Linked DNA regions of Homo sapiens: region 1 is linked to region 2. Evidence: fine-mapped expression QTL. A gene starts in region 2. The other region holds a variant in brackets. All regions are shown on one strand. Distances are between the middles of the regions.

Region 1 (5,307 bases), 540 kb before region 2:
TATATTGAGTCAGTCATCTCAGTCATCTCCGCTGTTCTACTTCTTCTGCCTCACCTTTTAATTCCAGTGTTTCCTGGGGCTTAATGTTTGGTCTCTTTTCTTCTCTGCCTCATTCAATCCCTTGGAGAAATTATTTGGTTAACTAAATTAGAGCTGCAGCCAGATCTCTTTCTTGAACTCCACATTTGTTTGCCCAACTATCTATTCAACTTCTTCACATGAATGTCTGATAAAATATCTTAAATTTGATATTTCCCAGACTGAATTCCTATACACTCCATTCTTCCAGTTGCTTAAGCTAAAAAATTACCTAGTTAACCCTGACTCTTCCTATTTCTCTCAAATTCCATACATGATCAAATGCTCTCTCTGTTTTCAAAGTCGAAAGCTTTGTTCAGAGTCACTAGGCTGTAACCAAGGTGTTGGTCAGGCTATCCTTCCCTGAGCTAGGGAAGAAATATGCTTCCAAGCTTATTCAGGATGTTGGCAGAATCTGACTCATCATATCTCTGGCTACCATCTTTGTCTATGAGTTATCACCACATACTTGCACCTAGAAAATGGGTCGAGACCATTGCATTTCCCACCGAGCATAGAGTACATTTGTAGTCATCAAATACAATTATTAAAACCTCATTTGGAAAACTGATTTGGATCAGGAATCACGTCAATATTACCACATAAACTAGAATTTACTGTAAAGTAAGAAGTCTTATTGATTCTGGAAGACTTCTTTGACTAGTTGGAAGTAAGAGTAAGTTCCTTACTCATCTTTTTTGCCTTTGTTTTTACCTGACAATCACTTTTCTTTTTTTTTTGAGACGGAGTCTCGCCCTGTTGCCCAGTGTTGCCCAGGCTGGAGTGCAATGGCGTGATCTTGGCTCACTGAAACCTCCGCCTTCCAGGTTCAAGCGATTCTCCTGCCTCAGGGTCCCAAGTAGCTGAGATTACAGGTGCTTGCCACCATGCCTGGCTAATTTTTTGTGTCTTTAGTAGAGACGGGGTGTCACCATGTTGGCCAGGCTGGTCTCAAATCCCTAACCTCGTGATCCGCCTGCCTCGGCCTCTCAAAGTGCTGGGATTACAGGCATGAGCCATCGCACCCGGCCTGACAATCACTTTTCAAGTAACAGAACAGTTTGGACATGCTCATTCTTATACCAAACTTCCAAGACTTTTAAGTTACACAAACTTTTTTTTTCAGAATGTCAAAGGGGATAATTATCCTCCTCCAAAGATAAGCAAGACTTCATTATTCTATCCAAAGCCTACAGTAGACTTTTGATTTTTTGACTTCTAACCTCTGAGTACAAATAATGTCTGTACTTGAAGTTTTCCTTTGAGTACATTAGTCAGTATAGATTCAACACTTGACACAAGGGCACATGCATGAGAGTACATGTGTCCACTGTTAATGTTCTTTGATGACGACAGAGAAATTCCATCACATATGATACATTTACATTCTTTCATTAACTACTCTATACCAGATGACCTCCACAATTTTACAGGAAGTGCTGATCTCCATTTTCTAATTTTATTCTACTTTTGAAAGAACTGAGACCATATTGTCATAATTAAACATTATTCTGGAGGTTCAGGTAAGGCCTTCTCTCTAAGAGGTGATTTTCACATAAAGGAGAAAACTGGCCTTGGTTTTAGAAGACTTAGATTCACTTCTGGCTCTGCCACTACTCGCTGGGAAACTTGAGCAAACAACTTAATCTCTCAGCTTCAACAGAATACTTACACATCGTGCAGGATTATAATGAGTATCAAGTGAGGTAATGTGGGTAAACACATATTAAAACTAGTTAAAGTTCTGCTCAAGTGTAATTCAACAATTTCCACAGCCAGTTTACCTTGGTGAATAAACACACTTAATCATAGCCTGATAAAATTTTCTCTTGGTACACTGGAGTCTTGCAAATGCCTAAGGAAGGATAGATCATAAAGCAATGTAGTAACCCAGGTGGAGAAACAGCACGTGGCATGGTTCTGCCTGTGTCAGGCCACACTGAAAAGGGTAAGGCAGGGGCAGAGTTAGCCTTCTGGTTTTGTACTTTCTTTTTTTTCTTTTCTTTTCTTTTTTTTTTTTTTTTTTTTTTTTGAGATGGAGTCTCACTCTGTCACCAGGCTGGAGTGCAGTGGCGCAATCTCGGCTCACTGCAACCTCCGCCTCCCAGTTTCAAGCAATTCTACTGCCTCAGCCTCCCGAGTAGCTGGAACTACAGGAGCACGCCACCACGCCCAGCTAATTTTATGTGTGTGTTTTCAGTAGAGATGGGGTTTCACCATGTTGACCAAGATGGTCTCCATCTCTTGACCTCATGATCCTCCCGCCTCGGCCTCCCAAAGTGCTGTGATTACAGGCGTGAGCCACCACGTCTGGTTGGTTTTGTGCTTTCTTACATCCCTTGCTTTGATAGTGCCTAAGTTTTCTATTGCTGCGTATCAAATGACCATAAACATAGTGGCTTCAAACAGTACACATTTATTTCACAGTTAGGAAACTGAGTATAGCCTAGCTGAGTGATTTCTTCAGAGTCAGTAGGCTGTAACCAAAGTGTTGGTCAGGTTATATTTTCATTTAATGGCTCAGCTGGGGAAGAATCTGCTTCCAAGCTTATTCAGGATGTTGGCAGAATTAATCTCCTGTGGCTGCATGACTGAGGGCCATGGCTTTTTGCTAGCTGTTGACTGAAGGTTGCTCTGAGATCTTAGGCGCTGACAGCAGATCCTGGAGCGCACCCGCAGTTTCTTGCCAATTAGGCTTCTCCAACTTGGCCACTTACTTCATTAAGCCTCTAAGGAGGGACTTTAGTTTCAATCTACTAGGATGGAGTATTATATAAAGTAATGTAATAATGGCCATCACATCCCACCACCTTTGCATATAATACTGCCTAATCATGAGATATACCACCTATCGTTGCATGTAATACCACCTAATCATGCATTATCTTTGCCACATTGGTTAGAAGCAAGTCACAGGTCTTGCCTACCCTCAAGGAGAGAGAATTACATAAGGGCATGGACTCCAAGAGACAGGGATGATATGGGTACACTAAAGCCTGTTCATCATAAGCAGCACCTATACTTTTTTCCAGAGAATCAAAGACTTGGGATAAGTTGGAGGAAAG[G/A]TTATATAGTTATCGTAAACAATCAGAAAAATTTTCTTTTTTCCCCAGATTTTATATACAAAGATTGCCACTGTCCAGTACCCTATTCATTAGAAACCTTGGGTATCAGAGATCGGCACCCTGTTGAGTTTTATGGCAATGATTTTGTTCCAGCTGCTCAGTAGCAGGAGAAAATGTTTTATTGAGGTGTGTTCAAAACCAAGGAATAAGGATGCCACAGGAATGGCTAAAAGGGAGTGATTACTGGGGCTTACCTGGAATGGATGAGCGGTGGCTTCTCTGTGTACTCAACATTATTGCTCTCTCTTAAGTTCATCTATCTCACTCCTGGCTTTGGTTTATCACTCTCCCTATGGTCTTAGCTCTAGCCCATATCCTCCTGACTTCAGCCTCTTTTGGCAGCTGCAATCCTTCTATAAATTTTGTTCAACTTCCTGAGACAGAGAGTCCATTGTCTAACTCACTTTAAAAACAAAACAAAAAAACAGGGCACTAATTCAGATCACAAGGTGATATGAGCCTTTGTATTCTTTTCTCATGGGTCCATATACATGCTGGTTCTTTTAGCTAAATCCTGGGGTTGAAGTACACTGTTCAAAGCTTGTTCAACTTGCTGCAGCTTTCTTTTGCAAGGACTATAGAAAGGAAAGCCTCTGGCCGGGCGCAGTGGCTCAGCCTGTAATCCCAGCACTTTGGGAGGCCTAGGCAGGTGGATCTCCTGAGGTCAGGAGTTCAAGACCTGCCTGGCCAACATGAAACCCCATCTCTATTAAAAGCACAAAAATCAGCCCGGCGTGGTGGTGGGAGCCTGTAATCCCAGCTACTCAGGAGCCTGAGGCAGGAGAATAGCTTGAACCCAGGAGGCGGAGGTTGCAGTGAGCCGAGATCGCGCCATTGCACTCTAGCCTGGGCAACAAGAGTGAGACTCCGTCTCAAAAAAAATTTAAAAAATGAAAGGAAAGCCTCTGTGACAACTCAGTGATGGTCATTTTCAGTCAAAAAGAAAAGTAATCACCATATCCGTGATTTTAAAATATTTCTGATATTTCTGAAAAATATCCAATATGTTTAAAATTTTTTAGTTTTGCAAAAGAAAACTAATCATCACATCCATTACTAAGGGCATGATGGTCTAAGGTTCTGCAGTAAGATAGCATTATAGTAAGAATTCTCAAAAAGATGAAGAGAGCACAAAGCGTAGCATCTGGATCTGAAAACAATATGTATAAATTGTAAATGCAATCAAACTATTGACAGACTAGCTACTGCTGAGAAAACGCTTTGATGGTCTGCAAGATCAAATGAAAAAAATATTTTACAAGGAACATAAACAAATTAAAACCATAAATGAGAATAGAAGAAGCTTAGAGGAGGCCAGGTACGGTGGCTCATGCCTGTAATCCCAGCACTTTGGGAGGCTGAGGCAGGCAGATTACCTGAGGGCAGGAGTTCGAGACCAGCCTGACCAATATGGTGAAATCCCGTCTCTACTAAAAGTACAAAAATTAGCCAGGCATGGTGGTGGGCGCCTGTAATCCCAGCTATTAGGGAAGCTGAGGCAGAGAATTGCTTGAACCTGGGAGGCAGAGGTTGCAGTGAGCCGAGATCTCGCCACTGCACTCCAGCCTGGATGACAGAGTGAGACTCCATCAAAAAAAAAAAAAAAAAAAGAAGAAGAAGAAGAAGAAGAAGCTTAGAGGATAGATACAATATACCTAATATGCAAATAAGGAAAATTCTAGAAGAAGAAAAAAAGGTCAAATATAAGAAAAGCAATAACTGTAGAAGGAATACAAATTTCAACTTCAGACATATGGTTAATTTGATGAATGCTTTCAGAAATTCCCCCAACACAATTCATAAAAACAATGTGATGAATAGAAACAATTTCTGAGGTACTAGTTGTGTCAAAAGAGGTGAGGAAGCCATGAAAATAAGTAAATTGTTTCCCATTTAGTAGGTAGCCCAGACTAGAGCAGTGAATATCTTGGAGAATGTAATTGCTTGAATTAGGTTGCCCACAGCAGCAATGCTATTGGTGTGCTAAGTTCTCACAGCGAGGTATTTTCACTCACGAATAAAGACCCTCTGAAGAACTAAAGATGAGCAAGGTTAATTAAATCTGGCTACCAGCAGAAGCAGAAGTAAATTCAGTCAGGATAAA
Region 2 (5,383 bases):
AATGGTGTGATCTAGGCTCACTGCAACCTCTGCCTCCTGGGCTCAAGCGATTATGGGTTTATACCTTTTCTTAAGGTGCCAGTTTGTATATTACAGGCGTGCACCTCCACGCCCAGCTAATTTTGTATTTTTAGTAGAGACAGGTTTTCTCCATGTTGGTTAGGCTGGTCTCGAAGTGCAGACCTCAGGTGATCTGCCCATGTCGGCCTCCCAAAGTGCTAGGATTACAGGCGTGAACCACCACACCCAGCAATTCCTTCTTTCTTTGAACACTTTATGCAGTTGGCTTCCCGGATACCACTCTCTGTTTTCCTGCTACCTCAGTGGCTCCTCAGTTTCTTTCTCCTTTAATAGATTTTTCTTATTACCCTGACCCTATATGTTGGCGTGGTCCAGGGCTTGGTCTTTATAGTGCTTCTCTTTATTGTCACTCATTGTTTCATGGCCTAAACGTTTATGGGTGGGCCTGGTGGCTCGCACCTGTAATTCCAGCACTTTGGGAGACTGAGGTGGGTGGATCACCTGAGGTCAGGAATTTGAGACCAGCCTGGCCAACATGATGAAACTTCATCTCTGCTAAAAATACAAAAAGTAGCTGGGCACGGTGGCAAGCATGTGTAATCCCAGCTACTCAGGAGGCTGAGGCAGGAGAATCACTTAAACCTGGAGTCGGAGGTTGCAGTGAGCTGAGATTCTGGCACTACATTGGGCAACAGAGCAAGATTCTGTCTCAAACAACAACAACAACAAAAACTTTTGCAATTTCCTCTGCCTGGAGGTTCCCACAGATACACGCAAGGCTTGCGTCTTAATTAACTTCCGGTCTGGATTCAAGCCTGTTTTATCTGTTAGTCCTTCCCTGACCATCCTATATAACTTGCACTCCATCTCTAACAGTACCTCTCCTCCTTACCCCAATGTAATTTTCTTCACAACACCTATAATTACCACTTGTGCACTTATTTATTGTCCAGCTCACCCTACAAAATATAAGTCTTGGGAGGGCTGGGACTTTGTGTGTTTAGTTCATTCTTGCATATATAGCTATTGGAAGAGTGCTGGGCACATCATCTGGTAAATATTTATTGAATGAGTAAGTGAATAATAGAAATAGATGACACCTTTTCATTATTTCCTAAGCTGAGGTAGATATCTCCCTATTTTAAAAAATATTTTGATTGTTCAGCCTGTTTCGAAATAAGTGTTTATGCCTTTTCCTAAGGTGCCAGTTTATAAAGAAATTATTAAACTTCAAAGTGTCATTTTCATATCAGGAACCATCTACCAGGATTAGAGTTCTCAAACTGAGGTTTGTGGGTTCCAAGGATGGGTTTCAAGGCTGTGTTAGCTCCCTGGATTTGAGTGCAAAGTGTTGTATGTAGATGTGTATGTGCATTTTTCTTGGGAAAAATTTTACCTTCCATCAGATTCACAAAGGAGTCAGAACCCAATTAATGGTTTTGAATTACTGTTATCTTCCTTGGGTGTTGATCAGCTAAAAGCGAACACATTGAAGATAAAACTCCTATAATCTTCCCCTCTAAACCACCTTATCTCTTGACTTTCTTAGAAGCAGAGCACATTGATGTTGGAAGCAATACCCAATGAAGGTGTCCCTCTAAATGTGCCTGGTAAATTGTTAGCCATGCTGTCCTCAGGAACTCAAAGCAGCGCCATCAATCACATGAATGTTAGAAACGTCCAGCTAGGTGCCATGGCTCATGCCTGTAATCCCAGCACTTTGGGAGGCCAAGGTGGGTGGATCACTTGAGGTCACGAGTTCGAGACCAGCCTGGCCAACATGGTGAAACCCCGTCTCCACCAAAAATACAAAAAAAAAAAAAAAAAAAAAAAAAGACTAGAAACTTCCACCTATGTCAGGCTGAAACAGTAGTTTCACACATAGGATCTTGTTCAGACCCTGGGACTTAAGAGAACATGTCGAATCCCTTTTCCGCTGGTCACTTTTCAGGTACATGAAGATGTAATCCCATCCCCGCATCAAGCTTTATTTCTCCAGAGGAGGATCTTTAATTCTTGTAAACATGGGACAGGTACAGGACATGTTATGATAATGACAGGTACAGGACATGTTATGATAATGACAGGTACAGGACATGTTATGATAATGACAGGTACAGGACATGTTATGATAATGACAGGTACAGGACATGTTATGATAATGACAGGTACAGGACATGTTATGATAATGACAGCTCTTCTTTAAATTTTTATTTTTTATTTATTTTATTTCCATAGGTTATTGGGGAACATGGCAGCTTTTTTTGAATACCCTCCTCTTTGCCAGTTGCCCAAGGTGGAACACCCAAACTTTGACATGATACTTCCATTAATGCAACTTAGTATCACAAGTTGATGTCGTGGCCCAGCACAGGATGGCCTGGAAACCGGCAACACTGGACGCTGGGGAAAGGGTAAGAAGGTCTTGACCATTACAAATGGTGTGGAACTGAGCCGAGGGAGGGATAGTGAGAAGGGAGAGAGGGTGAGGTGTCTGAGAGACAATGAGGTCAAATCAGAGGATTCAGCCATTGTTGGCGTGTGGGAAAGGGAAGGAGAAGGGAAGAGTCAGGGATGACATTTGTTGAGAGAGAGAGAGAGAAGAGAGAGAGACGCAGGTGGAAAGAGGATGGCACCACATTGGACTAGCCCCAACGGAATGGGGAGAAGTGGGAGAGGACCCAGGGGATGCAGAGCTGATGAGAGTGGGAGAACCAAGACAGAGGAAGAAGGTTGGGGCAAATCAAGTGTCTCAGGGAGGCCCAGTGAGGCAAGAACGGAAAGGAGAAAGGCGGCGGTTAAGAATCAGGGATAATGGCAGAGCGTTGCAGCTCTGCGGGTGGGACTGGGCGGAAGGGTTTGGGAGAGACAAAGAAATGATCTTTGAAGGCCTCGCAGTGCTTGGCCGAGTGCCTGGCACAGAATAGGTGCGCAATAAATGACGGGTGAGAAGTGAAGGAACTCAGGAACAGTGATTAGTGAGTGAGTGACGGAAGGAACGGAGGATGGCGTTGGCTCGGGAACCTCGCTGCCATGTCGGTGGAGGCTCCTGGGCTGCAACGCCAGAGAGAGGCGGGGCGTCCCCGACGGCCAATAGGAGCTTCGGTATCAGCTCCGCCCCCGCCCCCTAGCTCCGCCCGGTGCCGCACGTCGTTCGCCTGCCGCCTGAGGCGCGCGCAGCCACCCAGCTCCCGGAAGTGCGCCCGGAGCCGGCGCCGCGGGCCGAGGTGAGCGCGCTTGCGGGGCGGTCCCGGCCTCCGGCCGCTCGGGGTCAGGCCTTGCGCTATCTGCGTCCGCACCTGACTCAGCTGGGCACCCCGGAGCTACGGAGGGGCCAGCGGGCTCCCTTGCCCATGCGTCTGGGAGCGCGCGGGGGACGTGGCGAGTGCGGGGCCGGGGCAGCCATGGCTGGGAGTGGACCGTGGGTGCGGGGGGATGTGTGAACCCCGTCCCGGCTCTGCATTCCTGCGCCTCTGCGCCCCGCGGGACCGGCCGGGTCTCTGCACTGGGACCGAAAACGGGCTCCTCCCCGCTGTCTTCCCCTAAGGGCTGAAAATGAGTCTCTGGAAGAGGAAACCCGATGGGATGATGCCTGGAGTCTCTCCCTCTCTCATCAGAGTGCAGTCGGCATTTGGGGGGCGCATGGTGGAGAATACATATCCAATGAGCAGCGCTGCCCTGGCCTCGAGCACTAAATGCCAGTTCCCCTAGCTGCTTGTGACAACCAGAAAACGCCCCAACAAATCACCAGACGTTGGCAGTTCTCCCCAAAGCAAAGGCTTTAGAGCTTCCTGGGTTAATCTGGCTGCCACTTGTGAGCCTCGGAGGTTCCTGATCTGTACACCAGGGTAATTGTGGGAATTGGAAATACATGAACCGAGCTTAATAATGAGCCGATACGTAGTAGGTGCTTAACAAATGGTTACTTATATATGTAACCATGTATGTAACCACTTGTGTATATTACACCTAGAATGCACTTTTAAAAATTCATTCTATTTGTTAAAGGTTTAATAACAGGTATAACAGACAACCTTATTTTTTTTTCATAACTAATGGGGGCAGTTCCTCATGAGGTTATCGGAATATAAACTCTATTAAATTTTTAATACTATATAAAGTAATTTAATTTTGAATAATCGAGACATTTTTCTTACACACTACCTGGGAGTATAATATTACTAACAAAAGATTTAAGTATTTTATAAAATCTGTAGTTTTTCCAAAATGTCATTTCTCTTAAATATTATCTAAACTGCTATCTTAATTTAGGAAACAGATAAATTGCAGTAAGTTTACAGGTCGGTATCTTGCTATCTAAAATCTTGCCGCTTGTTATTTGAAACTCTTGAGCCAAATAGGTTGGATTTACAAAGCAAGGTATTTTTAAAAATATATTTATTCGTTTTTTAAGATGTTATTTGAAACTGTAGGTTTACCTCTGAGCTAAAGCTGCTTTTCAGGTGGTTTGATAATGCTGTCATTGTCACTCAGTATGAAAACATATTTTAATTTCCTTTGTGATTTTTTTCTTTGACTATGGGTTAAGAGCATTATTTAGTAATTTCCATAAATTGGGATTTTCTAGTTATTGTTATTGATTTCTACTTTAATTGCACTATGATCAGAGAATATATTTGAACCCAGGAAGCTCTAAAGTTTTCCATTTGACCTTTCTGGTTTTGTTTCTCTTGTGTTCCTTTTCTATCAGATATTGGGTTTTTGAGTGTTTTTTGGTATTGCTTTAATGGCTTTTTAGCAATACCACTTTGCGTAATATTTTTAGAGCTAATTTTAAGATATCAGTCATTTGAAAATTATGCATATGGTCTGTTTTGATGAATACTCTTTGCACTTGTAATGAATGTATACTCTGCAGTTCTTGGGTCTAGTGTTCTGAAAATGTCAATTAGAGCAAGTCGGTTGATAGTGTTCAGATTTTTTGACTTCACTGACTCTTTTTTTTTTTTTTTTTGAGATGGAGTCTCCCTCTGTCGCCCAGGCTGGAGTGCAGTGGTACGATCTTGACTCACTGCAACTTCCGCCTCCCAGGTTCAGGCTGTTCTCCTACCTCAGCCTCCTGAGTTGCTGGGATTACAGGTGCGCACCACCATGCCCAGCTAATTTTTGTATTTTTAGTAGAGATGGGGTTTTACTGCGTTGGCCAGGCTGGTCTCAAACTCTTGACCACAGGTGGTCCTCCCGCCTAGGGCTTCCAAAGTGCTGGGATTGCAGGCGTGACCCACCGCGCCTGGCCTGGGTTTCTTTTTTTTTTTCTTGCAGTGGTGTGATCTCGGCTCACTGCAACCTCTGCCCCCTTGGGTTCAAGCAATTCTCCTGCCTCACTCAGCCTCCCTGGTAG

The links. PIP is the estimated chance that this variant, and not a neighbour inherited with it, causes the effect. A credible set is the group of variants that fine-mapping cannot tell apart.
Region 1: its variant is the best candidate, but not a certain one, in a credible set for the expression of ZNF18 in tibial artery (GTEx, PIP 0.61).

The regions. Positions count from the first base shown.
Region 1 is chr17:12,532,786-12,538,092 of GRCh38, reverse strand. No RefSeq gene overlaps it. Among named protein-coding and RNA genes, the nearest start is that of LINC00670, 15 kb to the left of the region's middle. The variant G/A (reference allele first, on the strand shown) is at 3,144.
Region 2 is chr17:11,995,296-12,000,678 of GRCh38, reverse strand. ZNF18 (zinc finger protein 18) reads left to right here and starts at 3,204. Exons shown (of 7, transcript NM_001303281.2): 1 at 3,204-3,248. RefSeq lists enhancers at 2,636-2,715, 2,786-3,025, 2,140-3,123 and a silencer at 3,056-3,505.